7 separate regions of the Homo sapiens genome follow, and all the other regions are linked to region 7. The links come from fine-mapping of genetic effects on gene expression. Tissue or cell type: whole blood. Region 7 holds a variant in brackets; each other region holds the start of a gene. Each region is shown on its reference strand, or each on the opposite one.

Region 1 (4,113 bases), not on the chromosome of region 7:
TCAGGCGGCCTCCAGCGTCTCCTCCCAGGGGAAGGTCCCGGTTCCAATCCGGCTGCGGAGAGGCTGCCCCACCCTCGGGCCCCAGCCCCTCCCTTCCTGCCTGGGTCCTGCCCGCTGCCAGCCAAGCCTTTGGCCAGCTCTGGGACTGCCTCTGGGTGCAAGGGGCCCAGGGCTGGGGCCTTTCTCTACACAAGCAGGGCTTCCTCCCAGGCCCTTGAAGGGGTCTCTTGGTGGGGGTGAGGGGGGTGTCCTGGGGCCCCGGGGCCTCTGCGGTAGCATGTCAGGCCAAGACACTTTTCTAGGATTTCTTTGAAGCTGGGAGGACCTCCCTCAGGAATGGGGAGGAGGTTTCCTGGGCTGGGGTGGAATTTCAGGAAAGGGGGTGATGTGGAGGCTAGGGGTCTGAAGGCTGCATCTGTCGGTTAGAGGGGTGCTTGGTGAGGGGCTTGTCCTGGAGGGAGGCTGTAAGGATCAAGCCCTGGGAGGGATTGTGGCTCTGGGGGTAGTTAGGGGCGTGACCTCAGAGCACAGCGTGAGAAGCTCAGGGCTGAGAACTGGGAGCCAGCCCGGAGGTGGCTCAGGGGTTTTGGGAGGTTATAGTATATACAGTCTTAGAAACATTGAGTTCATTTATGGGGTCAGAGAAACTCCCAAGGAATAGATCTTTCTGGGGGTGCCAAGAATCTGGGGGCTTCTTCCATGGAGATGATTTGAGAGCTATTCAGGGTTTCTGAGAGGGGCTCAGGGAGTTGCAGCGGAGAAAGCATGGGATGGAGGAGGGGCTGGTTTTCCTTGGGGGTGGGGTGGGAGAGTGGAGGTTTGGGCCTCCGGGAATGGGGGATTGTCAGGACTTGGGGTCTTGGAGATTTCTGGAATGGCCAAGGGGCAGGATGTCTTTTTAAATCTCGGGTCGGAGAGCAGGACTCTCTTAGGACTGGGTAGTCCCAGAAGAGTCTCAGGGCCAGGGTCTGGGTAGAATTTCTAGATTCTGGGGGCAGTCATGGAAGGGGCTAAGAATCAAACGTGGGGCCGGGCACGGTGGCTCATGCCTGTAATCCCAGCACTTTGGGAGTCCAAGGCAGGCCGATCACGAGGTCAGGAGTTCGAGACCAGTCCAATATGGTGAAACCCCGTCTCTACTAAAAAATACAAAAATTAGCCAGGCATGGTGGCACTCGCCTGTAGTCTCAGCTACTTGGGAGGCTGAGGCAGGAGAATTGCTTGAATCCAGGAGGCAGAGGTTGCAGTGAGCCAACATCGCACCACTGCACTCCACCGCACTCCAGCCTGGGTGACAGAGTGAGTGAGACTCTGTCTCAAAAAAAAAAAAAAAGAAAAAAAAGAATCGAACGTGGTGGAATCTCAAAGGTGCTGGGCACTGGCATTCTCCCAGGAAGGCTCTCAATGGCTTAGAGGGGAAGTTGGGGACTGGGATTTGGGGGAGATAGGGCTCAGGGTGGTGGAAGGTGGCACCAAGGGCGTGGTGGGGGTCCTGGGAGTGCTTAGGGTCCGAATGGGGTGAGTATTTTGTATTTAGCATGCTCCCAGGAGGTGCTCAAAGCCAGGTCAGCAGGTAAGCGGGGTCTTAGGCACTGGGAGAGGGAATAGTGGGTCTCGGGATGCGAGTGCAGAAGGAAGGGTCCCCCGTGCAGGGGATGGAGGCTCTCCAAGAGTTTAGGTTACAATCTGTGGGGATCTTTTAAGATTAGAGGGCCTTATAGGAGGGTCTCAGTGATGGGTCAAGGGGGAAAAGGGGTCTCGGGGATCCCCCCAAGGGCTCAGTTCTGGGTCCCGGGGGACACCCTCCCGGGTGAGGGCCCACTACCTGGATGAACTGGATGGTCAGCGCGCTCTTGCCCACGCCGCCGCCGCCCACGACCACCAGCTTGTGTGTCTCGCTGGGCGGGGGGTCCCCGGGCCCAGGTCCCCCGCCCCGGGGCCGCCCCCGCCCTGTCCCGGACGCCGCCCCGCTGCTCATGTCGCCACCGCTGCTGCTGCCTTCGCTACCGCCTGCGGGGGAGCCGGGCGGGACCCGGGGGGGCGGGCTACGCTAATGAGGCTACTGCATAATCATGAGCTCTGGCAAGGAGGGCTCGCGTCTCCGGACACTTAAGGAGGGGGACGGGCCAAAGAAAGGGAGGAGCTATGTTAATAAGGGAAAGGGAACGGCGTTCGCTGCGAAGGGGAATTCCGAATGAGGCGGGGCTATGCTAATGAGAGACCTGTGCTTTGCCCTGAGCGGCGCCACGCGCTCTCAGCGGGAGGGCGGTCTGTGGGCGTGGCTATGCTAATAAGAATTTATTCTTTCAGCAGACGGGGCGGAAAGTTCCTCAGGGGAGGGGCTATGCAAATAAGGACCCCTGTGACACTGCTGCTTGGGGCATCGTCTCCGAGGCCTTAGTATGGTAGGCGGAGCTCGTCGACTCGCGCGCGCGGCCGTATATAGGGCGCTCCGAGGAAGCAGCAGGTTTTGAGGAGTAGCTCCACCTCCCTCCTGGGATCCTAGCCAAGCTTTCGACCCCGGCGTCTGGGTTAGAAGCTAGAGTCTCCGCCCGCTAAGGGACCCAGGCTTCCGGTTCCCGCTGTCCCAGCCAAGCGGAAGACAGACTGGGAGGAGAGTGGGGCCCTAGAGGGGGACAGCAGGGTAACGGGGCAGGGAGGGGCCGTGAGATCACTGCATTCCTAATCCATGAGCCAGCTCGCCCAAGTAGGGATGCCTGGGTCATGAAGAGCCTGGGGCCAGGATTTCTGGGTCTTGAAGGAGAAGGAAGCAGAGGGCCCAGACTCCTGGGTCCTTAGGAGAAAATGGGGCTGGAGATGTGGACTCCTGGGTCCTGGGGAGGAGGGTGTCAGGGAGGAAGGTAGACAGGTTCCTTCGTACTAGGTTCGGTAAAGGAGGGAGCCGGGGGCCTGGACTCTTAGGTCCAGGAATTGGAGAGGCTGGGGACCCAGGATTCTGGATCCGAGCGAGGGCACTGGCTTGGGGGGACCCGAATTCGTATGTGAGAGCTTGAGACCAGGACTAGTCTGGGAGACCGACTCTTGGATCCGAGGAAGGAAGAATCAGACTCCTGAGTCGGAGGGAGGAGGGAAATAGGAGTCTGGACACTGCTCTGAGTGAGAGGATTCGGAATTCAGACTTCTCTGTACTGAACGAGGCGGCTATGGGGTCGGGCTTCTAGGTTCTAAGTTTATTTTTATTTGTTTATTTTTGAGACGGAGTTTCCGTCTTGTAGCCCATGCTGGAGTGCAATGGCGCGATCTTGGCCCACTGCAACCTCCGCTTCCCGGGTTCAAGCGATTCTCCTACCTCAGCCTCCCGAGTAGCTGGGATTACAGGCGTTAGCCACCACGCCAGGCTAATTTTTGTATTTTTAGTAGAGACTGGGTTTCACCATGTTGGTCAGGCTGGTCTTGAACTCCTGATATCAGATGATCCGCCTGCTTCGGCCTCCCAAAGTGCTGGGATTACAGACGTGAGCCACCGCGCCTGGCCTATTTTTATTTTTTTAGAGGCGGGGTCTCCCTATATTGCCTAGGCTGGCTTCTAACTTCTAGGCTCAAGCCATCCTTCCGCCTCAGTCTCCCGAGTGGGACTACGGTGTGCGCCACTGCATCCCGTCTGGTTCTAAATTTAGGGGGGCCTAGAGGATCTGGATTCTGAGAGCCCCAGAATGTGGGCAGCACAACATCCAGCAAGTCGTGCTCACTCCGCCGGACTACAATTCCCTTGCGTCTGTTCTGCCTGGCGCCTCTTACGTCACCTCCTGTTCCGCCACCCTTTCCGCGCGCGCGCAGGGCACTGTGGGGCGTCATCGCGGGCTACCGCGGCCCCGCCCACTTCACCTCTCACCCCATTAGCTGTCCCCGCGCGACAGAGGCGGTGCGCGGACTACGCCTCCCGGCGTGCATCGCGCGGACCCCGCCCCATGTGTCCCATTGGCTTCTGGGAAACCGAGTGCGGTTGCCTTCCCGCCGGCCTTCACGTCGCCGTGCTCGGTACTTGAAATCCCGGCAAGCTCGGCGGCGCTTTAGCTCCGCCTCTCTCCTCCTTTGCTCACGAACCCCGCCCCAGCCCGCCCCGCCCCGCGCCGGGGCCGGAGCCGCAGCCCG
Region 2 (4,000 bases), not on the chromosome of region 7:
TTTGTTCTAAGGGTTTCATATGCAGTAACTTATCTGATTTTCATAAAACCCTTGCGAGGTGGTTCCTATGACTGCACCTGTTTATACTGTTGAGGAACTGAGACACAGAAATGTTTAATAACTTGCCCCAGGGTTGCACAACTAGAGAGTGGAAGAGCTGGGAGCAAATCCTGATTCCAGGCTTACAGTGCTAACTATGTGTTCTATGGCCACACTGATCTGGGTTAAACAAGATGACCTGGGCTACGGCTGAAGCCATTAACTAGCAATGCTCATGCAACAGGGACCACCCTAAAATGGGTAGAGTTCAGCTGGAAACCTGGTAATATTTGGAAACTTTAACGAACCACTCCCAATCTTCAACACAAATGGGCCAAGCATAAATAAAAGCATGAGGGCTGAGAAAGGCATACTTAGTAAAAGTGACTTAACTGACTTGTTCACTGCAACCATTTCATGTCTCAGACATGCGCCTTTTCCCATGCCCATGCAGCATGTATTAAAGATTGGCCATTTATGGACTGTGAGGAGATATCAATAGGTTATAATGGGAAGAAAGTTTACAAATGACATTCTTGACAAATTGTCAAGAAAAGGAAAAGCACTAACAAAACATTCAATCAACTTGACAGTTTTTAACAAACAGAACAAACATGGATTCCACTTTTCCAACTTCATTTTGTGTTGAACAGAAAAGTAAATCGTAATTAACAACTGTTTACAGGGATTTAATCCCAGTGGCAGATTAAGCACCCTAGTCTCTTTCTCCTCATTCCCCAATTTTTTTAACTTGGCAGAAAAAAATACTCATGAAAAGAATAATCCGCAATCGCATAGGAAAACAAGAAAAGATGCCATTGAGAGTCTGTGGTGGTAAAGAAGTCTTGGAAGATAGAGAACAGATAGGAGAGAAATCTACTATCCACAATATGCACAGGGGAAGGAGATAGTGCAAAGATCAGTGCAAAGTCAGAGAAAGGCAGAGTAAACATATACTAAGAAGAGGAAGGGGTCTTGGAGGCTCCTTTTAGAACAATTCATTATACAGCAGCGCTCAGAACAGGAAGTCTAGAGCTTCCTCATTCTTCATCTGTCATGAGTCCCAAAGATGAAAGGGAGGCACAGAGAGGTTTAGTAACTCACCCAAGGTATTCAGTGGCAAAGCAGAGCTTGTCTGACTCTAAAGCCCTGTTTCTTTCTATGCAAGATACTACATCTCATATATGACTGTTCAGATTTTTATTATGTAAAGAGATTTTGCAAACGAATAAGCAAAAGACAAACATCCAACTAGAAAATAAAAAAGCAAAATACATGAACAGAGAGTGATAAAAGAATAAGCCAAATGTGCAATGAATAATACGATAAGCATGTTAACTAGCTAGTAGAAAGCATAAAGAAGGCCAGGCATGGTGGCTCATGCCTGTAATCCCAGCACTTTGGGAGGTTGAGGTGGGCGGATCAGCTGAGGTCAGGAGTTCGAGACCAGCCTGGCCAACATGGTGAAACCCTGTCTCTACTAAAAATACAAAAATTAGCTGGGCGTGGTGGTGCACATCTGTAGTCCCAGTTACTCAGGAGGCTGAGGCAGGAGAATCGCTTGAACCTGGGAGGTGGAGGTTGCAGTGATCTGAGATGGTGCCATTGCACTCCAGCCTGGGTGACAGAGCGAGACTCCGTCTCAGAAAACAACAACAACAAACAACCAAAAAAAGTGTAAATGAAGACAATTTGATAACATATTTGTCTATCAAATTGGCCAAGATAGAAAATAATAGTAATAATCTCAGACACTGTGAGTGGGAAGGTCAACAGGTCCAAATGTTCTGAAGGCTGATTTAGTAATCAGTGTCAAATGTCCTAAAACATGTGCTCCTTTGAATTTCCACTTCTAATAATTTATTTCAAGGAAATAATCATGTATTTAGAGAAAATATATAAAAAGTTCATGATACACTAGAGACGAAATTAAATGTACTCTCATTTTTTTCTTTTCCACCAGCTTCCCAAGTACCTCTAGTCATTTACACAATGGATAACAGATGAGCCGCCTATTGCGGGCACTGAAGGATCAGAGCTTAGGTGAGGGTAGAGGGCAAATCTCGGCTCCATTCACAATAACAGGCTGGACTCTGGCGAAAAAAAGAGGTGTCAGTGTTCCCTCCATGTGCCCCCTTTTAACAGTCTCCTAATAAGTACCACATGTCTGAGCTCTGAGAGAGCCTCAGAGTTTAAATAGTTGAACTCCACCCTGCAGCTGCTGCCGCGAAGTTAACTCTAAGAGCTGCAGTCACCAAGAGCGAAGAATAAAGCAGCAAAGACAGAAACTCACCTGGACTTTGAGTTTGTCGTTCCTGCCCCTTTCCAGGGGCTGGGACAGGGATCACTCCTCAAGATTGGGAGAGTTACAGGGAGATGCTAGCAGGCAAAACAGGAAGTCTGTGCTTTGACAAACGCAGTAAGGGGCCGGGCTTCCGAGAAAAGAAAAGTGAAAGTTTTCGGAGTTTGCCAAGCCGGAAGCTGAAGGCAGGTCGGTGCCTGCAGCCTCTCTCCACCTCCTCATGGGCACTTGTGAGGCTCCCAGGACGTCTTGGCAGTTGGGGTTTGGGGGAGGGCGTGTTGCCAGTTGGGATCAGCCCAGAGAGGGAGGTATGGGAGGAGGAGGCATAAGGGTACAGCCCCAGCGGCAATAGGAACTGGGAACTCAGCGTCCAAATGCTTCCCTAACCACATCTATTTTCCCATGACTTGTCCTCATTCTGTACATTTTAGGTTGATGAAAATGTTCTCAAACTGGATTGTGGTGATGTTTACATAACTGAATGAATTCACTGGAATTTATCCAGTGTGTTATCAAACTCTAACAACACACAAAAAAACAAAGAGAATGTGCCAGAAATGCCTAGAACTTGTCAGGATAAGATTATTACAGGAAGAAATTGAAATGAAAGGGAACCTGCACATGAACTGGAATTGTGCAGAGGCAGGCAGACCTCCAGGCAGAAAAATGGCTGAGAGCTGGGCAGGTAGTTGGGAGCCAGGAGTCTGAGGCAGAACTGGGACCTGCTGATTCCAGAGAGCAGTAACTCAAGGGCTGGCAGGGACACCCCTTCTCATGCCCCTTTTAAAGATCCCTAATGTACATTGACATGTGGGGCCTATGAAAAATCCTAAACTATTGGCCAGGCACAGTGGCTCATGCCTATAATCCCAGGACTTTAGGAGGCCAAGATGGGAGGATTGCTTGAGCCTAGGAGTTTGAGACCAGTCTGGGCAACATAGTGAGACCCCATCTCTACAAAAAATAAAAAAATAAAAAATTAACTGAGTGTGGTGGCATGCACCTTGTAGTCCTAGTTAGTGAGGAGGCTGAGGCTGGAGACTTGCTTGAGCCCAGGAGTTCAAGGCTGCGGTGAGCTATGATTGCACCACTGCACTATAGAAATCTGTGTAACTTTGGGCCAGGCTCGGTGGCTCACGCCTGTAATCCCAGCACTTTGGGAGGCTGAGATGGGTGGATCACAAGGTCAGGAGTTTGAGACCATCCTGGCCAACATGGTGAAACCCCATCTCTACTAAAAATACAAAAATTAGCCAGATGTGGTGGCGGGAACCTGTAATCCCAGCTACTTGGGAGGCTGAGGCAGGAGAATTGCTTGAACCCAGGAGGTGGAGGTTGCAGTGAGCCGAGATCGCACCACTGCACTCCAGCCTGGGTGACAGAGCAAGACTCCATCTCGAAAAAAAAAAAAAAAAAGAATTCTATGTAACTTTGATTAAATCAATAATTCTCAAATGTATTTGACCCACAAGTTCCCCTACCAGGACATCCACAAACTCCTCAGATAAAAGATGGGAGACATGGATCTAAAGTTTAAGAAGCTTTGAAACCAAGGCTAACTGCATAAGAGCAAGCCCTTCTATGCAGGCACAAACAGCATATCCCACCCTAGTATGTACAGAATAGCAGACCCGGCCTTGCGGGTAATGGCTGTGGGTG
Region 3 (4,113 bases), not on the chromosome of region 7:
GGGGAGACCAGGCCTGGCAGAGGCTCCAGGCCAGGGTGATGATGCAATGGGGTTTGGGCAAAAGGCCAGGGGGGTGGGGTGGGGGTTGGGTGGGGACCTTGAATAGCCCAGAACAACAGTCGGGGCCTAATCATTTTTCTTTTCTCCCATCCCCAAGTCCTCCAGACAAAGGAGAATTTGCCTTTCTCCCCAGTTGTATTAGCTAGATTAACCCCTTTTCTCCAAAAACTATAGGGACTGAGTAGAGATCAGTTAACTGTCTCATGTGTAAAAACAGGTCGCTTCTGACAGAATTCCCCTCAAACCCTGAGATCCTGGGGTTGGGGTGGGGGTGAGCAGTAGGAAGCTCCCAGCTCAGAGATGTAGAAGAAAAAGGATTACACCAGTCATTGTGGAGGACCAGGAATCTGGCATCTATGGCCTAGCCCAGGAGCAACCACCTACCTCTCTTGCTTCCCAATCTCCCCGCCATCCCACATTTAAACAGACACCCTTGGTTCTAATGTTGCTTCCACTCTAACTCCTGTTTCCCAAGCCTGTCAGTACCCCATTTTCTAGGCACTCGGGGTCCGGGTCTGCTTATCACTGTGCTGAGTTGGGAATAAGGATCCTCCTTTGAGATTTCCAGGGTCCTGAGTCCTTCATTCTGACGTTCTTGGCCCCACGGAGCCCCCGTCTCCCCAGCTTCCGACCCCAGCCCCAGAAGTCCCGGTCTCAGCACAGCTCCAGCCGACCAGCTACAGGAAACCAGCTTTTCTCTTCCTCCCAAGAGCCAGAGGAAGAGGGAAACCGCCCACCCCCCTTCACGCGCGCACACACCCCTCCCGACACATCCCAGCACCCGCCCTTGGCTGAGTTCGCCCCCAGCCCCAGGGCCCCAGTGCCAGGGTCCCCGCACTCGCCCCCAGTTCTCGGATCCCCTCGCCTGAACAGAGATTGGGGGCGGAGGGAGGAGTAGGAGACAGAGGAGAAAGGAGAGGGAGCCGCCGTCCTCTCTCGGGTCTTTCCCCGGTCTGAGTTGAGGGGGGAGGGGAGGATGAGGCTGGCCCCCATTTAACCTTCCGACCCCCTCAGTCTTTGACTTTCCTCCTACTACACGTAGCTCATTCGGCTTCTACCCGTTCTCTCGCCGCACAATGGCCCCTACGGATCCCGAGGTCTCCTGGAGCCCCCAAAAGCCCTTCCCGGCCTCTGCGCCCCCTCTGCGCCCCCACCCGCCCCAGGTCCCAGCAGCCCACAGACTTCAGCCAGAGACCCTCAGCTCTCCATTCACGCGCTCTCCTCTCCCTTGGCCCGGAGACCCCTGCCCAGACTTCTCCAGCTCCGTGTCCTCTCCCCACCGGACACATGTCTCCCCACTGATCTCAAACGCCAGGGCCCCTCCTCACCCGCCACGGTGCCCTCCCTACTCCAGCGCGGGCCCCCAACTCTAGCCAGGGCCCCCAACTGCAGCTCTATTCCTTACAAACTCCACCCTCAAACTTAAGCCCTGGTCCCCTCCAGACCCCAGCCGCGCCCCCAGTCTCCAGGCGGCTCCCCCACCCCCATCCCGTCTCCAGCCCTCCTCACTCACCCGTCTGTTCCCGGCCGGTAAAACTCCACTGAGAATCCGAAGAAGGAGCCCGGGGGCCCCGAGAGTACTGCTGGGGCCTCCGCGTCTAAGTTGAAGCCCCCGACCCTGGGTGGCGGCGGCAGCAGCAGCAACAGCAGCGGCAGCAGCGGGGGTCGGCGCCGGGGGCCCCAGCGCAGCTGCACGGCGTGGAGAGGGGACTCTGGCGTCCGGCTCCCCATAGCGCCCGCTCTTCCCTGTCCTGGGGCCACCGACCCGGAGCCGCTTCCTAAACCTCCCAGAGGCGAATGACTCAACGCGGGGAGGAGTTTGCCAAACTCCCGGCTGAGCCCTCCCCCCGCCTGCCGAGGGGGCTGGCGGGGGGGCATTCCTGGGTCCCTGGAACTCTGAGCCCGCGTCCCCCACCCCTAAGGGGCGTGGGGGGGGGGCGCACCCCTCCAACCCCCTTTCCCCAGCCCCAGCTGGAAGCCGGTTGTCTGGACTGGGTTAGACTGGGCGGGTTTGGGTTCTTCCCCCTCCTCTCTGCTTCCCCCTCCTTCCTCCCCATTCCTTTCCAGATGTACAACGTAAACGCTCGGAAAACGAGTCGGAAAAGGGAGCGGAGAATTTCCTAATGAGGAAAGGAATCACCTCTGGTGGGCGGAGGAAGCCTGTATATGTGTGTGGGGTCTCCCTCAGTGCTTTAGGGAGGAGACTTTGGGGTCTAAAGAGACAGGAGACTCCTCTGGCGTCCGGCCAACTGGGATTCCCCCTTGCCTTCCGGGGCCGCCGGGTGCCTGGGTTCTGGCCAGCTGGATTTGGGACACAACAGTTGAGGTACAGAGACAGCGTTCGCAGTCAGCTTGCTAGAGGACCTACACGGGCTCCTCAAGTTCCGCTGCTTCCTCCTCCAAGCTTGCTAGTATTGAAAACCCAGGAGTTTGGGGTCATTCATCAGGAGGATTCTGCTCCAGTTTGCCCCCTTCTTGGTCCTAGGGTATGTAAACCTCTGCTGAGCCCCTTCCTTGGATCTGACAGTTGACCAAAAGCCTGCGAGTGGCTGGCCCCTCAGTACCTGCTTGATTAAACTGGCCGGGTTCCTACAAACCTGGAGAATTGTGAGAGGTGGTGGTGGTGGTGGAAAGTCTTGCAAAGGGACCCAACCTTCAGCTCCTAATGGCTGTAAACGCTGGGAGCTCTGGCCAGGCACGGTGGCTCACACCTGTAATCCCAGCACTTTGGGATGCCGAGGTGAGCAGATCACCTGAGGCCAGGAGTTCAAGACCAGCCTGGCCAACATGGCAAAACCCATCTCCACTAAAAATACAAAAATTATCCAGATGTGGTGGTCCGCACCTGTAATCCCAGCTACTCGGGAAGCTGAGGCAGGATAATTACTTGAACCCAGGAGGCAGAGACTGCAATGAGCCGCGATTGCACCACTGCACTCTAGCCTGGGTGACAGAGCAAGACTGTATCCAAAAAAAAAAAAAAAAAAAAAATCCAAAAACCAAAAACCAAAAAAACAATGGGAGCGGAAAGCCAGGACCCCATTCTTCCCAGATTCCCCTGTGGAAGTAGAGGAAGGGACTCTAGAAAGGGAAGGCAGTGACCCCCTGCCCACCTCTTCCCCAAGCTCAGGCTCTGTGTGATGAGATCACTTTTCAGGATTCTAGCCTTTATCTTAGTCTGGGGGAGGGGACTACAAGTCCTTTCAGTCTCTTTCCTCCAGGACTCCTCACTTTCCAGAATAATACCCTGTCAATAATATCCTGTCAACCCTGTCCCTTCTGTTCTCCAGTCCCCTGCCCCACTTCGGGCTGAAAGGCTCAGAATAAGAGTGCCCAGAGTCAATGTTTTTTTCCTGCCATGACTCTCCCCCTCACTCTGCTACTCCACTTCCTGTCCCAAATCACCCATCTGCTTTTTTAAAAGCCCCCCTCCAGAGCCAGCTGCAGCCCAAGGGAGAGGCTGGCTGGCCAGACTGTGGGGCAATGCTGGCCCGTATCCCATTCTCACATCTGCAAGTCCTGACCCTTTCTTAGGTGAGGAACCCAGGGAATCTCTGGGTCAGGATCTTTAAGCCCAGCATTGCCAAAAAGGCAACCTTTAGGTGAGAGCTACTCAAGCCATGGGCTGGGAACCCCCTTTGGGAGGAGAAGGGCTGAGGCCTGATTGCTTTTTAGCCCAGCAAAACACGTGTGTGAACCAAACACTCTCCTTTCTCAGTCTAGGCAAACTCTTTAGATTTTCCCAGGATTTGGGAGATTAGGGGTGGGGGTGGGGAGGGGTGCAGGGAAGGAGGTGTGTGACTCAGCTCCTCCCAGGAGCCTTGGTGGGGGACAGGGGACATAGCGTCCTGCCCCAGTCCTCCTCCCCACTCCACCCCTAGCCTTGGCCAACTCAAACAGGCCCCCTCCCTGTCCATTCCCTGCTCCTGTTTACACCGGGAGCCCCTTAGTCATTCTTTGGCTGGCCTTTCTACTCTCCCCAATATCCCTCCTCTCTTGGCTCTTTCTGCCCTTATAAGTCCTCTCCCAGTGGCCCCAACACCTCCTGCCTTT
Region 4 (4,000 bases), not on the chromosome of region 7:
CTCAGGCCCGGCTTGGGGCAGCTCAGCCAATGAAGGCCGGTTCTGCCTGTTGCACACTGCTTCGTACACGAGTGATGGTTCGGTTGGCACTGGAGTAGGGGAGGAGGGTGAGAAGAGAAGGCATTCAGGGTAAAAGGGAATTATCTGCTTCATCATGGAAAGAGGCAGGGAGTGTAATGTGGGGGCACGAGGAGGGAGGAGGGCAGTCTAAGTAGGTGAGCGGGAAGGGGAAGCCTTGGGGCTTTCAAGAGAAGGGCACCTGGGGTTAAGGATCCCAGAATCCTCCTAGAGTCTTACACTCAACTTCTCTTCCAGCAAGCACTGCCCACATTAGGATCCCGAAGCTGCAGGAGACACAAAGCTGAGGATCGGTCCAATCACTGGCAAGACTCCTTTCCTATACATCATCCCCTGGGAGGGCCCAGAGAAGTGTAGGAATCCTGGCTGTGTGTTTGGGCCGGGATCCTTACCTGTAGACGTCACTGGCTGTGGAGGCCTTCCGGTTTACGTTAACAAACAGTTCTGGGGCCAAGTAGCCCAGGGTGCCCCCTGGCTCCCCGGACCCTGTCCCTGACTGTGAGCCTCCCTGAAATGTGGACAGGCCAAAATCTGCCAGCTGCAAAGGAAGGAAAGAAGTGGGAGGTAGGGAAGACAAGGGGGCCAGAGAGCCTCCAGGAACCCCCCTGCCCCCAGAAGGTGCAGGTTCAGCTTTGTAAAGGGAGTGTGGAGGTCAAGGGAAGAGGTTCCCTTGGATGGTAGATCTAGGTGCCTTGTGGTAGGGCTAGGTCAAGGTCTGAGTCTCCAGGGCTGGGTCAGCCATGACTCTTTGGAGGGGCTGGTGGGGCAGCTGGTGGAAATGACTCGTGTGGCTCAGGGCCTCTATCACCTGGTAGGCAGGAGCTAAAACTCCTGGCTGGGCTTTGTCCCCTGGCAGCCCTGTGTCCAGAGAGAGAGGCTACGCCTATTCAATAGACAGGGCTCTGGAGGTCTAGTGTCCGGCGGGCCTGGCTGGAGCAGCTCTGGGGCCTTGTCTTGAGGCTGAGAGGGGTGTAGACCAGCTGACCTTGACGTGCAGCTCTGGGTCCAGCAGGACGTTGGATGGCTTGAGGTCCCGGTGCAGGAGCACCGGGTTCTGGTCGTGCAGGTAAAACATCCCAAGCACCACTTCTTTCAGCAGGCGGCAAAGGAGCGGCCAGGGCCGAGGGCACTGGGACTGCAGCAGCCCCGACAAGGAGCCGTTCTCCATGAATTTAGTCACCAGAGCCGGCTTGGGATCTTGGTCCCAGTTCACCTTCTCGATAACCCCTTCTAGGCGCAGCACGAATTCGTTATCCAGACTTGCCATGGCCTTGACCTCCCTGGATATCGCCTTCCTACACTCCAGGAGAGAGCTGGAGTCGCACCGGGGTCGTGGGAAAATCCCTCCCTTCGCCATTCAGGCCCCAGAGCACAGTGGCTCCACCTTTTTGGCCAGATTGCGGCTGGGGTCAACCGGGGTCACTCACGAGTTTACGATCTTGACCGCCACATCGTAGCCCCACTTCCTATGTTGCGCCCGGAACACTGTGCCGAACCCGCCTTTGCCGACGAGCTCCTGGTTCTCCAGTTCCTCGATGGACACCAAGGGGGCGGGGGCACCGCTGGGCCTGAGAGAGGGGTGTCGCCCACTAGCCGGCCGTGCCGTGCCTCAGCGCTGCTCCCCGCGCCCCTGTGACTCGGCGTTCTCACTGCAATCCCCAGCCTCCCTCGCCGGCCCCCACCGTCCCCGGACTCAAAGACGTTCTCTGAGCGAGTCTGTGGGGCTCTCTGGGTGTGAATGTCGGAGGCTGCGATCGACATGCCACTCCCTACTCACCATAACTTGACGCACGACATCAGGCTGGAAGGTGCCAGGGGGCCTCTGGAAATTGCGAGCCGTAGGAGATGGAGTGACTTCTGGGGCTTGGTCCTTTCGCAGAGAGGGGAAGGGGTCTGTCTGTGCAGGGGTCAGTCTCTAGACCAAGACGGTGAGTCTACTTTCCGGGTTGTTACCCTTTTTCCGAGTTGACTGAACAACTTCCCTTATAGGCGCCTCTACAGTCCCGCCCCTGGGGTGGGGCAGGGGGCAGAGCGAAAGCTAGTGCCTTTCTCCTTGACTAGCGTTTCCTGAGCACCTGCCGCAGCCAGATTAGGTGTTGCTGGGCATTGAGGATGTTAGGGAAGGAGTCCTCACCTTCCAGGAACCCACAATCAACCCACTCCTACAGTCAAAGCCTTCCCTTTTCCCACAGGATTTCCTGCTCCACGACCTGCCAGGCCATGAGTGGAGATGGTGCTTAGGAGGGTTTTATGGTTCTAGGGCTCAGCTCTCTCACAGCTGCCCTAAGATCATAGCCAACACGTATATAAAACTTATCATGCACCAGGTATATATATTAGCTTATTTAATTCTCACACGAACCCTAAGGGGATAGGTACTGCTTTTATTACCTTTCTATAGGTGAGGAAACTGAGACACTGAGAGTTTAAGTACCTTGCCTAAGCCCATATGGAAATAATGGCTCTGAACCATCAAGTTATCCTGTTTTCACATAGGCTTCAGGGCTGTACCACTCAGCTGGTCGTGCAGGTGGCTGGGAAAGGTGTGAAGCATCCAACAATGTAGTGAAGGATCCCTATCTGTATTCCTGCCCAGTCCCTATAGCTGCTCTTGCGAGGCAAGTCTTTGGCATTGATAGGGACTTATATGCCCTTTGAACAGGAGCTCCTGGAGGTGGCAGGCCCCAAGCCCACTCCCAGGGCATTGTGGTAAGGCTAGATTTATCAGCCCATCCAGAGGGTTGGTGACATTGTGGTGTACACTACAGTGGAAACACCTCAGAGCTTTCCTGCCCTCTCCCTTGCATGACAACTCTTGCATGCAAATACCCTAATTAATGTTCCTGACAAGCACATGCTCTGGACACAGTCTTTTGATAACCCAGAAGCATGGAGAGTCTTAAAGATTTAGGGCAGAAAAAAGGTGTCCATATTTTACCTTTCTGAGGTCTGACCATGACTGGAGGTTGTGGGAACCCGATAGGGCCTGCCCTAGGCACTCAATCCTTCACAGGGATACTCAATCCTGTGGGTTGTGCGTTGGCTCTCACTAAAGGTGCTCACCTTGGTACTTGCTTTCCATTTTGTTCAGTGGTCCATGGGCTCTGCTGGTTGAGGCAGAAGTGATCTGTAGTTTTTTCTAAAACAACTCTTGGAGAGCCACACCATGGCTTCTAGCAGGGTCAGTTCATGCTATTTTGGAACTATTTAGGGAATTGTTCAACCGTAGTCTCCTTAAAAGCCAATACATGGCAGATACCCAATAAATATTTGTTGAATTGAATGAATAAATGAACAACCCAAAATATCGAGCCTTTCTTAAGGCACTGATCATCCTAGATGGAGCTCCATACTCAGTAGGAGGAAAGAGGTGATTGGGTTCCTGTAGGGACTGAGGGCTCTCACCTGCACAGTTCATGAAATCCATCTGAAGTAGGCTTTAGTATAGAGATATGGTGGTATCACACAGAATCCAAGAAGGCAAGAAGTGTAGCAGGTCCTCAGAAAAGCCTAGAGTCAGAAGCTGAGAGCCATCAAAAGGGGCAGCCACTCCCTTTGTGATTCTTTTTAGAGAGAATAACCCAGGCTCAGTATCTCCACTTGAAGGGAACAGGCAGAAAGGATTTGGAAAGGTGTTATAACTGGGTTTCTTCAGATTGTGACGAGACCCTGAGAATGAGGGATAAACCACTGTGAAGCACAAAGTTGGGTGTGGTATCAGGGCCTATACTACTTTTTGACTCAAAATAAACAGCCTCTTTAAAAGAAGGAAGAGCAGGGAGAAGAACCTTAGACTAAGTGCCTAACAGGACCCTCAGCTTCCAGCAAGGGGGTATGGGGGTGGACCTAGGCAGAGGCTGATTCTTGGAATTCTGAGCTCTGGTCTTTTCTGAGGACTGATGCCTCTGACCACAGATGTCCC
Region 5 (4,113 bases), not on the chromosome of region 7:
GGTGTGAGAACGAACAGAATTGTAGCACGTGTATCAGTCTGGTACACAATGTCCTATGAAGGTTAGCTTTATTATCACCATCATTATTATTGCAGAAAGACTTTCAGTTCAGAATAAGACAGCACAGTTACAGAGACCTGGTTTTATTTTCCAGCTTCTTAACTGAGTCATCTTTCAGCTCCTTTTAATTAAAAAGAAAAAACAATCAGAGATCTAATTGGGTATCAGGAAGATACACAATATGACTAACAGGCACTAATATTACTACACTTATAGTCTCTGGAAGGCTGGACATACTTATCCAAGAACTGCCTAAATTTTTACAATGACACACCATGCTAAATCTTCCATATTAGAAATTCCATATTTCTCTCCATACTAGAAATAATCGTTCCATATTAGAAATAAGAACGTAGATTTGGTAACAAGGGAAACTATTCAAATTTGCCAGTGCTATTATTTGTGTGCCTTCAGATGGGTGGGGAAAAAATGTGTCAGCAAGCAATGCAGCCTTTCTTTAGTTTTTTACTTATCCTCTAAAGATCATGCAAAAAAAAAAAAAAACCAACAAACGTTTACTCTTGGATGTTTAACCTTGGCTCCGACAGAATGTTCCTTGTATCAAAAAACAAGAACTCAGCCAACAATGTTTTTGTTGTTAAACGGTTGCATGAAGACTATGTCCAGTCAAATCTAACCCCTCACCCCGCTCCAAGGCTATGACCCTCAATTTTCATCAAAGTTCCTACCATCTCCCACTTTGTAAAGGCCCTAAAGAAGTTAATGAAGAAGGCAAAGTTCCTGTCCTCTGCTGTCACTCAGTAATGAGCAGTTTCATGTGGCAGTGCAGAAACTGGGGTTTGAGAAACAGAGGTGTCCTGACACTCTGGACCGGTAATCACGAAAACCCCAGCACTGCCATAAAGATGCTGTCTTAACTCGGCTCCAAACAAAGTTCTGTCGGCGGCCGGCAGTGTTTCAGTGGGCAGCAATGTGGTGATACCTTCACAGGATACTTTATAGGCTTCAAAACACTTCCCTCCCTCCAGGCCATTAACCTTCTAAACCACACAGTGGGGTATGGCTGGAGTATTCTCCCCCTGAGGCAAGGGAACTGAAGTTCAAGAAGGTTTCTTGACTTGCCAAGATCTCCCCGCTACTTTGGCTTTAAGAAACTGGGTCTAAGAAACTCAAGCTTACGGATTCTCTGTTCTCTGCGCGCTCCCACCACATCTTCAATTCAAAGATCCTTCCAAATTCCACAGAAATAACCCAGTAAGGGCAGCTCTTGAGTATACCTTTTCCTTTGAGTCTTAATTTTCACTCAAGGCGAAATAACCCCTCCTCTGAAAGTTCTCCACGTTTTCCAAGCGGACAGCATCAAGTTCGCAGGGGATCTGTATCAGTCTCAGCAGGTGGACTTCACAAGGGGCGGGTTGGGGGAACGCCCGCCTGACCGTGTCCGGCGTGGCGGGGGGTTGGGGGCGAGAAGAGTGGGGGTTGCTATGTAGGGCGCCCGGACCAAATAACACGCCGCGATTTCACACTCCAGCCTAGCTCAGTTATGTAGCCAAATGTTTTTCTGTCACCACATATCCACGACTTTGGCTGTGTTGAGGACGAAAACAGAGAAAAGACACTGATCCCAGAACACTGCGCCTGGGAGGACGCAGGGCGCAGGCTTTGTAGTCTCTGAGAATCGCCCTGCGTAAAAGTGTCCTGAGGTCCCGCTTCTGCGCCCTTCCCGGCCCAAGCCGAACACAGGGTCAACCTCACTCTACAAAGTCAACCGGATAGAAATCCGCCACCCCGCGAGGAGCCCCTTCCTACTGTCTCCAAGGGGTCCCCGACACTGCTCTGAGCGACCCTAAGATACCTGGGTGTCTCTGCTGGGCACAAACCTCTCTGGCGCCACTTCCACCATCCAACCTCTCCCGCGGCCCTCCCTTCCCTTTCTCCAACCACCCTCTCCACCCCGCGCCGCTCCCATCTCGCCCCCGGCCCCGCCAGCCTCACCCAGCCAAACCCGAGCGGTGGAACGCTGCGCTGGGTAAACGCCGCGCGTCGGGTCCTCCCTCGCGCGGCTCCGGGCAGCGTTCCGTGGCCACCGCGCTCCCGGTAACAGCAGAAAGGGGAGGGAGGAGAGCTACCGAGGAGGGGACAGCGACGCCCCGACGCCGCCACGCCCCCCGCCTCCCACACGGGGGCCACCGTAGCTCTCTAGAAGCTCCTCAGGGAAGCAAAGCGCCGTTCCCGCCGCAGGCACCGAGACGTCGCCCAGATGGAAGAAACTCTGGAGATGCGCGCTCCTACACCGGTGCCGCGGCGCCCGGGCCCAGCACCACGCACCTATGCGCGCCTCTGCCGGTCCTCCTAGAAATCCCGCCCTGCCTACCCGCGGCGCGAGACGCAACGACGCTTTCAGGGGTCAAAGACCTGGCAGAAATGACTTCCCAACCCCAGATGCCCCCAGCAGCAGTATTTAGCAGTCATACAATTGCCTGAAATGAAGAATGAGTAATCTGGATGAGTCGGCCCTGAAATCGACCTGCAACTTACCCGGAACGTGAGCTGTCTCTCTCTGACCTCTGCTGGCTGCTTCACCTGGAGTCTGAGTCCGACTCATGTAGCACTTCACTGTCCGCGTTAGTTTAGCCTTCACTGTCAGCAACTCGTCACCTTGTCCTCTTGCAGCGAAGGTTTGGAATCCCATCACGGGTGTGCAGTGGTTAGTCCTGAGATCATGGTGGTGCTAGGAGAACCTGCCAACCAATACAGAAAGTTGTCACGAATAGAAACCTAAGCTCTGGCCGGGTGCGGTGGTTCAAGCCTGTGATCCCAGCACCTACTTTGGGAGGCCAAGTCGGATGGATCACTTGAGGTTAGGAGTTCGAGACCAGCCTGGCCAACATGGTGAAAGCCTGTCTCTACTAAAAATATAAAAATTAGCCGAGCGTGGTGGCGGGTGCCTGTTATGCCGGCTACTAGGGAGGCTGAAGCAGGAGCAACCCGGGAGGCGGAGGTTGCAGTAAGCCGAGATCGCGCCATTGCACTCCAGCCTGGGCGACAGAGCAAGACTGTCAAAAAAAAAAAAAAAAAAAAACAGAAAGGAGAAGAAGGGAAGGAGGGAGGGAGGGAGGAAGGCAGGCAGGCAGGCAGGAAGGAACCCAAGGGAGGGAGGGAGGGAAGAAGGAAGGAAGGAAGGAAGGAACCTAAGCCAAGGAAGGAAGGAAGGAAGGAAAGCAAAGAAAGGAAGGAAGGAAGGGCGAAGGAAGGAAGGAATCTAAGCCAAGGAAGGAAGGAACCTAAGCCCAGGAAGGAAGGAAAGAAGGAAGGAAGGAAGGTAGAAGGAAGGAAGGAACCAAAGCCAAGGAAGGAAGGAAGGAAAGAAAAGTAGAAAGGAAGGAAGGAAGGAAGGAACCTAAGTCCCAGAAGGAAGGGAGGGAGGGATGGAGGAAGGAAGGAAGCTAAGCTCTCTCTCGCGGTGCCCTGACTTCTCCCGGGGAAGGACCTCTGAGCTGCCTGCACTGGTAATGACACGTAGGTGAACCGGTCCTGGCTTTCTTAGAAGATTCCCTGCTGCATAAAACCAAATCCCGTTGCACTTTCCTGGGTTCCTTGGCTTTGTCCTTTGTCATTTCCAGGATGGAGCAGAGGCACTGGTAATTTGGCTTTTACTTGCCTGGTACCTCTGGCATGGAGTGGCTAAACGGTGGCACCATGTACTAGTTGCTGCCATCTTCAGATAAAATATTGAATCAATATGACAAAAGTCAGATGAATACTAGCTGCCAATTACCCTGCTTCCCTTGGGGGCAGCCTGTTTGGAGCATAGACCAGCTTTGACCTGCAAGAACTCTGGATATTTGGAATATTTAAAATTCCAAATACAGTATCCCAGGAATTCAGGTCAGCTGAAGGCCGATTGGGAAGGGCTTACCTTAAATGAATCAGAAAGAAAAAGGTGTGGGTGTGTGCTAACATTTTTTGAGTATCGGCTATGTGCCAGGTACTTTTTCTTATTATTTTAAGCAAGTCTGTGAACATCCCTGAGAATAACAAATCATTTGTTCCCATTTCGCAAGGGGGAAATCTATGACTTAGGTTCAAATA
Region 6 (4,113 bases), not on the chromosome of region 7:
AAGTAAAGCATGTGCATAAGGAAATTCTATTAAAGCACTGAAATGCAATTCTTCACTTCAAAAGACTATGCCAACAAAAAGATTATATGATGAATGGCTATGATCTTCCTAAATTGTTTTGTGACTTTCAGGTGCCAAAGTTGCCTCTCTGAGCTGCCTCGCAAGTTGGCAAGGAAAAACTTTCTCTACACATCAAAATCGGCAATCATTTAAGTCTGCTCTTAATCTGGGTTTTAAGTGCACCAGTAAGCACTTACTCATTTGCCCTATATTTTAAATAAAAGCTGACTTACCTGAATATTCTAATTTCACGTTCTTCCCTTAAAATCGATTTCACCAAATCGATTTTAAGTTGTAAGCAACAGCATTCCTCCCTTCAGTAATCCACCACGTACACTGAAGCACTTAAATTCTACATACAGGGTGGGATACCATACAGTGGAAAAGATGCGAGAAATTACCCACCGTCAACCAGTTTAAGTCTTCTGACAACTGTTCAAAGACTTTTAGAGAAAGCCTAATAACTGAATCGCATGATGGAGTATCTGATATACGCGGAATAGCACTCTGAACTTTCTCTACTGTGTATACAACTCTTGATTACAAAGAGGAAACTAACGACTAGGGCTTCCCCGAGCGAGAGAACCGGTAAGGTAACAGGCTAAAAGGGCGTCGTTGATTTCTTGGCTGCAGCGACAGAGGCGGGAGACACACCCCTAGCGTCGGTCTGAAACACTACAGCAGCGAATTCTACCTAGGGATTAATGTGAGGGTAAGGAAAGACAAATTAAAATCGCCATGATTCAAAAACAACCACTCCAAGAGAGAGACACAAGAAGGTACCAAAGAAAATGAAAAAACCCTTGGTAGTAACGGAAGCATGAAAAATTAAGCGCCCCCATTTCTCCCAAACCAAGTTCGCGTATGTTTTCGTGAACAAACACCTTGGATCTTTCCGGTTCGCCAGGGCAGCGAGCAAAGCAGCAGCGAACGGAAACCCCGCAGGGCTGCGCACCGCAGCTAAACCGACGCTCGCAGGAGAGGGGAAGTGAGTGGCAGGGTTCCCTGCCAAGACTCACTGCTGGGAAACAGGCAGTGAGTGGAAGCAGCAGCAGCTCTGGAGAGTAAGTGGGTCTTATGTAAAGTGCCATTTGCCACATATTGTTATTTCCAAAGGATTTCAGAATACCCTCGAACTCGAAAAACAGAGTGAGTGTGGAGGGGAGGGGGGTGCTCCACGTGGAGGAGGGTCGCGAGAAGGAGAGTGCGCCGGGCTGATGGTCAGCGGTGCCCGCGGGGGTCGATGCCGGGCGGGACCGGCGGCGCGGGGGTGGGGCGACGGCGGGGCGGCGGCCGAGCAGCAGAGGGGCGCCCCGCAGAGGCCGGGGGCGGGCGCGGGGGCCCCGCCGCCGTCCTGTCAGCAGCCGCCCCGCCGCCCTCTCCGGCTCGCCCGCAACCGCCGCGGGACCCGCCGGGCCCGGGTCTCTGGAATTTTCCACGGGGGACAGCCGACCGGGGGCGTCGGGGCTCGCCCCCGCACCCGACCCGGACGGCGGCAGTAGGGGGAGGGATGGTGCATCGAGGAAGCCAAGGTCTCACCATTTTGCTCGGCGGGTCGGCGGCTCGCTGGCTCGCTGGCTCGGAGAAGTGTTGCGCTCAGGCTGGCTCGCAGGAAACGGCGGCGGCGGCCCAGCTGCGGCCCTCGGGTCGCCGGCGGGGAGGGGGCGCGCGTGGGGGAGGGGAGGCGGCGCCGCGGGGCCCGCGCCGGCCGGGCGATTGGGCACGCGAGGGAGCGGGCAGGGTAGGGGGAAATAAATTAAGGTCGAGATTCAGAGCCGGAGAGCGCGGGAGGAGCAGCGGCGAGAGGCAGGAGAGGCAGAGAAGAAGAAAGGAGGGGGAGAGGGGGCGAAGACGGCCGGGAAACTCGGGGGCTGCAGCCTCGCGCTCGCGCCGGAGCCGTGACGGACTCACTGCAGCGGCTCGCGCTGACCCGCAACCTCAAGGCACGAAAAAAGGGGAGGGCGGAGAGGGAGGGGAAAGCGGAGTGCTGCAGCGCGCGGGGCGGGGGCGGGGCTTCCGCGAGCGCCGCACATCCGGGAACCTGCGCGCCCCGCTGGGCGGCGAGTGCCGCGGCGCTCTGGCGAGCTCTGGTTGGGGAACGCTGAGCGCGCGGACCACGTTCGCCCCTCAGCCGGCCGCCCCTTGCGTGCAGGGTGGGGGGAGGCCAGGGGCGGGGGCGCGGACGTCGGTGACGTCGCGTGGCGGAGCCCTTCCGGTCATGTGGCTGGAGGCGGGCGGGGAAGAAGGCAAGGCTGGGAGGGGAAGGAGGAAATGCGAGGGTTCCCCGGCGGGAGGAAGCGCGAGGGGTGCGCGAGTGCTAGCGAAAGGGGGACAGGGGCCCTGGAGTGGAAGCCTTGCGGGAGAGGAGGAGCAGAGGAGCAGTCTTAGGGTGTCAGAACCACCCGGATGCCGCACCAAAAAACAGGAAAAATCCAAGTCCTGCGAGAGGCAGTCAAAGGTATCTGTGCATCCGTGTACCGACTTGGATCCACTACAGAATTGCACGGCCCATCAGGACTGCTGTCACCCCGGTGCAGCACCCGCAGGCCCATCTGTAATATGAATTGGCAGAGTCAGGAACCAGGTTGCAAAGACAGAGAAGCGAGCCAAAGCTGGCCGCAGCCCGAGGCGTGGGGAGAACCTGGGCAAACGAGGAGAAGGGATACTTCCCACTCGCAGAAAGACTTTCCACCCAGCTCTGCATTCCCATAAACCGTCCAGACTCCCCTTTGGCGGAGTCCATCAGTTTTTGTTTAAAAAAAGAAAAAAACTCGAATGTAGATTGCCCGCTTATCCTTTTAGTAGAGCTATATCCACTCCTGTGGCAATTATCTTCCCAGAAAATTCAGATTACAATAGGAAATTACATCCAGAAAAGCATAAGGAGGAAATTTATGTTCGAGAGAAGAAATAAAGCTGTCAGGAGAGGTGTGATGAGGATAACGAAGAAAACATTTTGCAACTATTTTAACCAGTTATTCCTTTACAAGCCTTGATAATCGCCCGCACTCGTGTGTGTTTGAGAGTGTGTGTGTGTGTGTGTGTGTGTGTGAGAGAGAGAGAGAGGATGTTTTCTGAGTGATCGGAAACTCCTTATTGATAAAGCCTTTGAGTCATTTTATAAAAAGCCATTGTGTTGTTTTTTTTTAAAAAAGTCTTAATGATCCTTACATGAGAACTTTATTCTTTTTATGTGCTAATTATTTTTCCATATGATGAGCATGCATTTTTTTCTAATAAACGCTCAGCGATTTGCCCTAGGACTAAATGGTTCCTGTCTCTCTTTCTCTCTGTCTTTCTCTCTCTGTCAATCCCCCCCTCCCCGCCCCTCCATCCCTCCCCTTCCCCCTTCAGGAGCTACTTTGCTTCTGTGTCAGGATGAATAAGGAAAAGAACTTAGACATAACAAGCTGTGTCACACAGTGAATGTATCAAGGAAAGGCCAAGAAGGGACACTTTCTTCCACAAGTTTCTTGATTTAAATATGTTGCTATTTGATACTAACATATTACAGAACAAGAAAAAGTCCCTAGGGTATATGTGTAACGTTTTCTAGGTATACTATTTAAAATTAGTTTTTTATCATAAAAAGACGTGCTTTTTAAGAAAAAGTACTGTATGCAAAATTCTTCCTCTCTCCACTTACCAGAGGTAATCATGCTAACTGCATTTGTTTGTGTCCCTTGGACATTTTCAGTGAAAATCAAATTATTTTAACTAAGGGGTATGCACTAAGAAGGAATTCGAGCTATTTGGAATACAGTGGATTTAAAATAACCCATAATTTTGTTGTGTTGGAGGCAATTTATACTAGTCTGAATTCAGTAAGATAAGTAAATCCAAAATGCACCTTTAATAGGTTTTTCATCAAAAGGCTGAGGGGAAAAGTATGGTAAGTAGTCATTCTCCTTTTTGTCTCTTTCCATTAAATTTTGATGTAAAGCTTAGTGTGAGTGGGAACAGGTACCAAACAGTCCTGCAGAAGCATATGTGTTTTTAAAAATGTATGTACCAAATAGCCCTGCTAAAGGCATACATGTTTTTAAATAACTA
Region 7 (4,000 bases):
ATGTGTTGTGTATGTGTATGGGATGTGTGGTATGTGGTGTGTATGTGTGTATGGGAGGTGTGTTGTGTATGTGTGTGTGGGATGTGTGGTGTGTGGTGTGTATGTGTGTATGGGATGTGTGGTGTGTATGTGTGGTGTGTATGTGTGTATGGGATGTGTGGTGTGTGTGTGGTGTGTATGTGTGTATGGGATGTGTAGTGTGTATGTGTGGTGTGTATGTGTGTATGGGATGTGTGGTGTGTGGTGCATAGTGTGTATGTGTGTATGGGATGTGTGGTGTGTGGTGTGTATGTGTGTTGTATGTGTATGGGATGTGTAGTGTGTATGTGTGTTATATGTGTATGGGATGTGTGGTGTGTATGGGATGTATGGTGTGTATGTGTGTATGGGAAGCGTGGTATGTGGTGTGTATATGTTTATGGGATGTGTGCTGTGTATATGTTTATGGGATGTGTGGTGTGTATGTGTGTATGGGATGTGTGGTGTGTCTGTGGTGTATGTGTGCACATGCATGTGGCAGCTGAGCCACTGGGGTGTTTGCTGTGCCTGGGAGCAGGCCATGTGGGTAGGTAGGCCTGGCTCTATTGATTCCTAGCTGTTGGCCCTGGCAGGTGGCTCTGCTGTTCCTTCATTGTGAGGTGAGGGCGCCCCCTCACCCGATCCTGGCTGTCATGTCTGTGAAGCCTGACCCAGCAGGGCACAGCATAGAGGGCTGTCCAGAGCAGCTGCACTGATATCATCATCATCTGCATTTTGGCCTGCTCCATGTCTGACATTCCTGTTAAGCAGGTGGCTTTAGGGAGAAGCATTGACACACTGACCCCTACAAAAAGCTTACAGTTCCTCAGTGATAAAACACAGGGTGCAGCCCGTGGCCAGGCTGGGTCCCCGGAGAAGACTCAGTTGGCAAACGCCATGTGGTTGCCACAGCTGGAAGCACTGGGGGAGGAGGAGCCCTGCCTGGCCCCGGCGGGGGCAGGGGGAGGGTGCAGGGGGAGGGTGCAGAGGGAGGGGATGAGTCATTTTGCCACAGGCACGCATGTGCTGGTGAAGGGGCGTGCGTGGGGACCATGGGTCACATCTCGGCTGTCCCCTTCTTTAGGAAGGGGTGGAGGTGGCAGGAGTGGGGCGGGTTGCAGGCTCAGAGGCACAGGAGGCCCGCACTCGCTCTGAGGCTGAGGAATAAAGGGTGTGGTGCTGGAAAGGGAACCCTCAAACCTGCTGACCTGGGAATAGCCCTTCAGGGGGCCTGTCAGATAGCTCGCCCTTGGGACAGGCGGTGGCGAGAGGCCAGGAGGCCTTTGGTGCAGGAGGGGAAGAAAGGCAGGGAGGGGCGTCTCAGAGGGCAGAGAAGGGCATCTCAGCAGCCCCGTGGTGTTTGCCCCTTTGAGGCGGTTCCATCCGTTGGCTGCATTGTCCACTTCGGTGACTGGGGCCACAGTGATTCTGCTGAATGCAATGGGAACTGTACCCAGAGTAGGGGTTCGCATGAGACCAAGGGATGGTGTCTAGCCACGGAACAGTCTGGAAGGTAGGGATGTAAGTCATAGGGCAAGTTCCATCTGTGGGACACTATCAGCTCAGGAGGGACAGCCAAC[A/G]AAACAGCAGGACCACAGGGGCCCTGGGGAGTAAATGCCTTTAATTGTCTAAGAGAGGAGCAAAGAAGGAGACAGAGTGAGTTGTGTGATTCGGGTAAAATTTCTAGAAAGAAACATGGCGAGAGGAGTTGCTGGGGACAGGATAATGCCCTAGAAAGAGGTGTCTGGGGGTTGGCGGTGGGTTTCCCACAAGCGGCTCGGTAGGATTGGGGCAAAACCAACCATGTGAGAGGGACCGGGAGCGGCACAGGAGAGGAGGCAGCAGCTGTGGGCTGTCAGGCATCAGGAACCAAGGGAAGAAAGAAGACAAGGAGCTGGTTGGGGTCGGGGGTCACAGGACTAGGGGATGGTATTTACAGGGTAGTCTTTTTAGGAGAATGTTTAAATGTGATTGAAGTCCAGTAAGTGGGAGCTAGCAGAATAGAAAGGATTAAAATCTAACTAGCAGCCCCAGGGTAGGCCGGCGTGAGTCACCTATGAGCTGGGCCTGGGCCTGGACTATCCCCTAGGTTTCCTCTTGGCGCTCTTCTCCCTTCCCTCAGGGCTCTGTGCAGTGGTCTCCACACAGAGAGGTCTTCCTGGACACATGCCCTAAGATAGCGTTCTCAGCACTGTTGCTCCTTGCCCTGCCTTATAGCAGCAACGTCACCACTCGTAGATGAAGGACTCAGCTCTGATTTGCTCCCTGCGTGATCCCCAGTACCTGGGCATCCCCCAGCCTAGAGTAGGTGCTGTCTGATACATTGGTATTGAATGAATGAATGGGAATGTGGCACTGCTTTCTCAAAGATGAGGGCAAATGGAGCATGTAGGACAGTAGAGAGAACTTTCAAAGTGAGAGGAGAGAATTTGAGGCTGCATCTGATGTTCATCATCTTATTTTAGGTCACTGTTTCTCAGTGGGCACGATGATATTTGATGTAGGGGGCACTTCTTTGGGTGAGACTGTCCCTCCCATTGCAGGATATTTAGCCACCCACATCACAAGTGGTACCATGGTGATTGTGATACCCAAAATGTCTCCACATTTCTCAGGTGAGGACCCTGCTGGAAAAGCCACCAGTTAGCCCGGACACATTCGTCCTCACTTCCTTCAGTACTTCCCACTCGTAAGAGCTTTGAAAATTCAGAAGGGCAATCTTTGGCAGATTTGTTAAGGTTTTTTAATATAGCCAGTAATGTTCCAGAATCTGACATGTGAATTTTAAAAAAAAACTATAGAGAAATTGGACCAGAAAGGTTGAAAAATGCCAAACCTTGCATTTTCAACCATGCTTGCAGTGATGACTATGTGTCTTCAAAGGTGCAGATTAACTATGGAAAGTTGCTTATTTTTATAAACAAAAACCAATGTTAATCTTCATTTTATTTTGATGCCTTACACTCAAGATCACATTGAACCTAATTCGTTCAATAAATAGAACCAACTTCTAGAAAATAAAGAGATCCTTAGATTAAAAGTGCTGTCAGAGTAGATAGATAACATTTTCTGTTGCCGGGTTTTTGGTCCCAGTTTTATTTTCTGCCTTGTTCCATCTGTGTTGAAAGAATAGTTAGCTCTGTGTATAAAACAACCAACTGACATTTCGTTAACTTTCCTTCTACATGGGGTTTCAGAAAGAAATGGGGAAAAAAAGGCTGGGGGGTTGAGCTGTGGTTGCCAGTTGCCACCTGTCCCCCTATCTGGTTAGGGCATTTTCTGATTTGGGAAGTGTAAATATAACCCAGAAAAAACAGCTTCCCCTCCTTTTATGCAAAAGTAGAAAGGCTTAAACAGAGTACAGCCTTAACATTGCCCCGGAAAGTTTCCACAGAACCCGTTAGACTAAATGAAAGCTCTTGCTCTGGGGGAGTGGGCCATGCCAGGAAGCTGCCCTACCAAGCCCTCTCTTGCTGGCAAGGCAGGGCTGGGCCTGGGCTACTGTCTCCCACCAGATAAGCCCAGCTTTCTTCAAGGCCCTAACAGGAACCTACATTTCACAAATTACCGCAGACACGCTCACAATTTTAAACTCTTTGCCTGTTAGGATCAGTGAGATAACAGAAACTTATAGGGAACTCAGAAAGCATGCTCCGGTGAGCAGTGAGCCACCTAGAATCAGCCAACTGGTAATATGCGGAAAATCTGCCAGGTTGTTGGTAAACTTTTGGTAGCTTGAAGTCTACCGTGGTTGGGAGTATTTACACCACAGAAATCGGTGAACGCTGCAAATCAAGGCTTTTTCTTTTTGAGAGCTGGTTTATCTGTGCACCACTAGCTTAAATACACTTTTAATGTCCTGACAGCTGAAATTTGACAGTGAAATTTGAAAGGAGGAATTCTTTTGGGTAGGGTTGTGTGTGTGTGTGTGTGTGTGTGTGTGTGTGTGTGTGTGTGTTGTGGAGGAGGAGCTGGGAAAGGG

Evidence for each region. PIP is the estimated chance that this variant, and not a neighbour inherited with it, causes the effect.
Region 1: RRAS starts here. The variant in region 7 is the best candidate, but not a certain one, in a credible set for the expression of RRAS in whole blood (TOPMed, PIP 0.63).
Region 2: it holds the start of SP110, and the variant in region 7 is the best candidate, but not a certain one, in a credible set for the expression of SP110 in whole blood (TOPMed, PIP 0.51).
Region 3: it holds the start of ITGA5, and the variant in region 7 is fine-mapped to the expression of ITGA5 in whole blood (TOPMed, PIP 0.97).
Region 4: it holds the start of RIPK3, and the variant in region 7 is the best candidate, but not a certain one, in a credible set for the expression of RIPK3 in whole blood (TOPMed, PIP 0.63).
Region 5: it holds the start of RUBCNL, and the variant in region 7 is the best candidate, but not a certain one, in a credible set for the expression of RUBCNL in whole blood (TOPMed, PIP 0.52).
Region 6: PPP3R1 starts here. The variant in region 7 is the best candidate, but not a certain one, in a credible set for the expression of PPP3R1 in whole blood (TOPMed, PIP 0.72).

The regions. Positions count from the first base shown.
Region 1 is chr19:49,638,121-49,642,233 of GRCh38, forward strand. It overlaps RRAS (RAS related), which reads right to left and starts at 2,023. Exons shown (of 6, transcript NM_006270.5): 1 at 1,826-2,023. The coding sequence starts at 1,978. It overlaps SCAF1 (SR-related CTD associated factor 1), which reads left to right and starts at 4,089. Exons shown (of 11, transcript NM_021228.3): 1 at 4,089-4,113. RefSeq lists silencers at 1,760-2,149, 4,010-4,113 and enhancers at 1,870-2,539, 2,540-3,209, 3,210-3,879, 3,420-3,519, 3,630-3,979.
Region 2 is chr2:230,217,542-230,221,541 of GRCh38, forward strand. SP110 (SP110 nuclear body protein) reads right to left here and starts at 2,443. Exons shown (of 19, transcript NM_080424.4): 1 at 2,333-2,443. It also overlaps a transcript of SP140 not described here. RefSeq lists an enhancer at 2,172-2,651 and a silencer at 2,369-2,555.
Region 3 is chr12:54,417,408-54,421,520 of GRCh38, forward strand. ITGA5 (integrin subunit alpha 5) reads right to left here and starts at 1,859. Exons shown (of 30, transcript NM_002205.5): 1 at 1,574-1,859. The coding sequence starts at 1,791. The region is part of intron 2 of GPR84-AS1 (GPR84, ZNF385A, ITGA5 and GTSF1 antisense RNA 1); the gene reads left to right.
Region 4 is chr14:24,337,952-24,341,951 of GRCh38, forward strand. It overlaps RIPK3 (receptor interacting serine/threonine kinase 3), which reads right to left and starts at 2,040. Exons shown (of 10, transcript NM_006871.4): 1 at 1,856-2,040; 2 at 1,506-1,646; 3 at 1,064-1,373; 4 at 471-616; 5 at 298-344; 6 at 1-89. The coding sequence starts at 1,875. RefSeq lists enhancers at 1,406-1,475, 1,706-1,905, 1,926-1,995.
Region 5 is chr13:46,385,118-46,389,230 of GRCh38, forward strand. It overlaps RUBCNL (rubicon like autophagy enhancer), which reads right to left and starts at 2,135. Exons shown (of 15, transcript NM_025113.5): 1 at 2,017-2,135. RefSeq lists enhancers at 1,902-1,991, 2,372-2,651, 2,682-2,781, 2,802-2,911.
Region 6 is chr2:68,250,526-68,254,638 of GRCh38, forward strand. PPP3R1 (protein phosphatase 3 regulatory subunit B, alpha) reads right to left here and starts at 2,007. Exons shown (of 6, transcript NM_000945.4): 1 at 1,600-2,007. The coding sequence starts at 1,602. PPP3R1-AS1 (PPP3R1 and CNRIP1 antisense RNA 1) reads left to right here and starts at 1,078. Exons shown (of 2, transcript XR_001739527.2): 1 at 1,078-1,209. RefSeq lists silencers at 1,327-1,436, 1,617-1,666, 1,927-2,366 and an enhancer at 2,457-3,126.
Region 7 is chr7:50,335,283-50,339,282 of GRCh38, forward strand. The region is part of intron 3 of IKZF1 (IKAROS family zinc finger 1); the gene reads left to right. Among named protein-coding and RNA genes, the nearest start is that of IKZF1, 33 kb to the left of the region's middle. The variant A/G (reference allele first, on the strand shown) is at 1,599.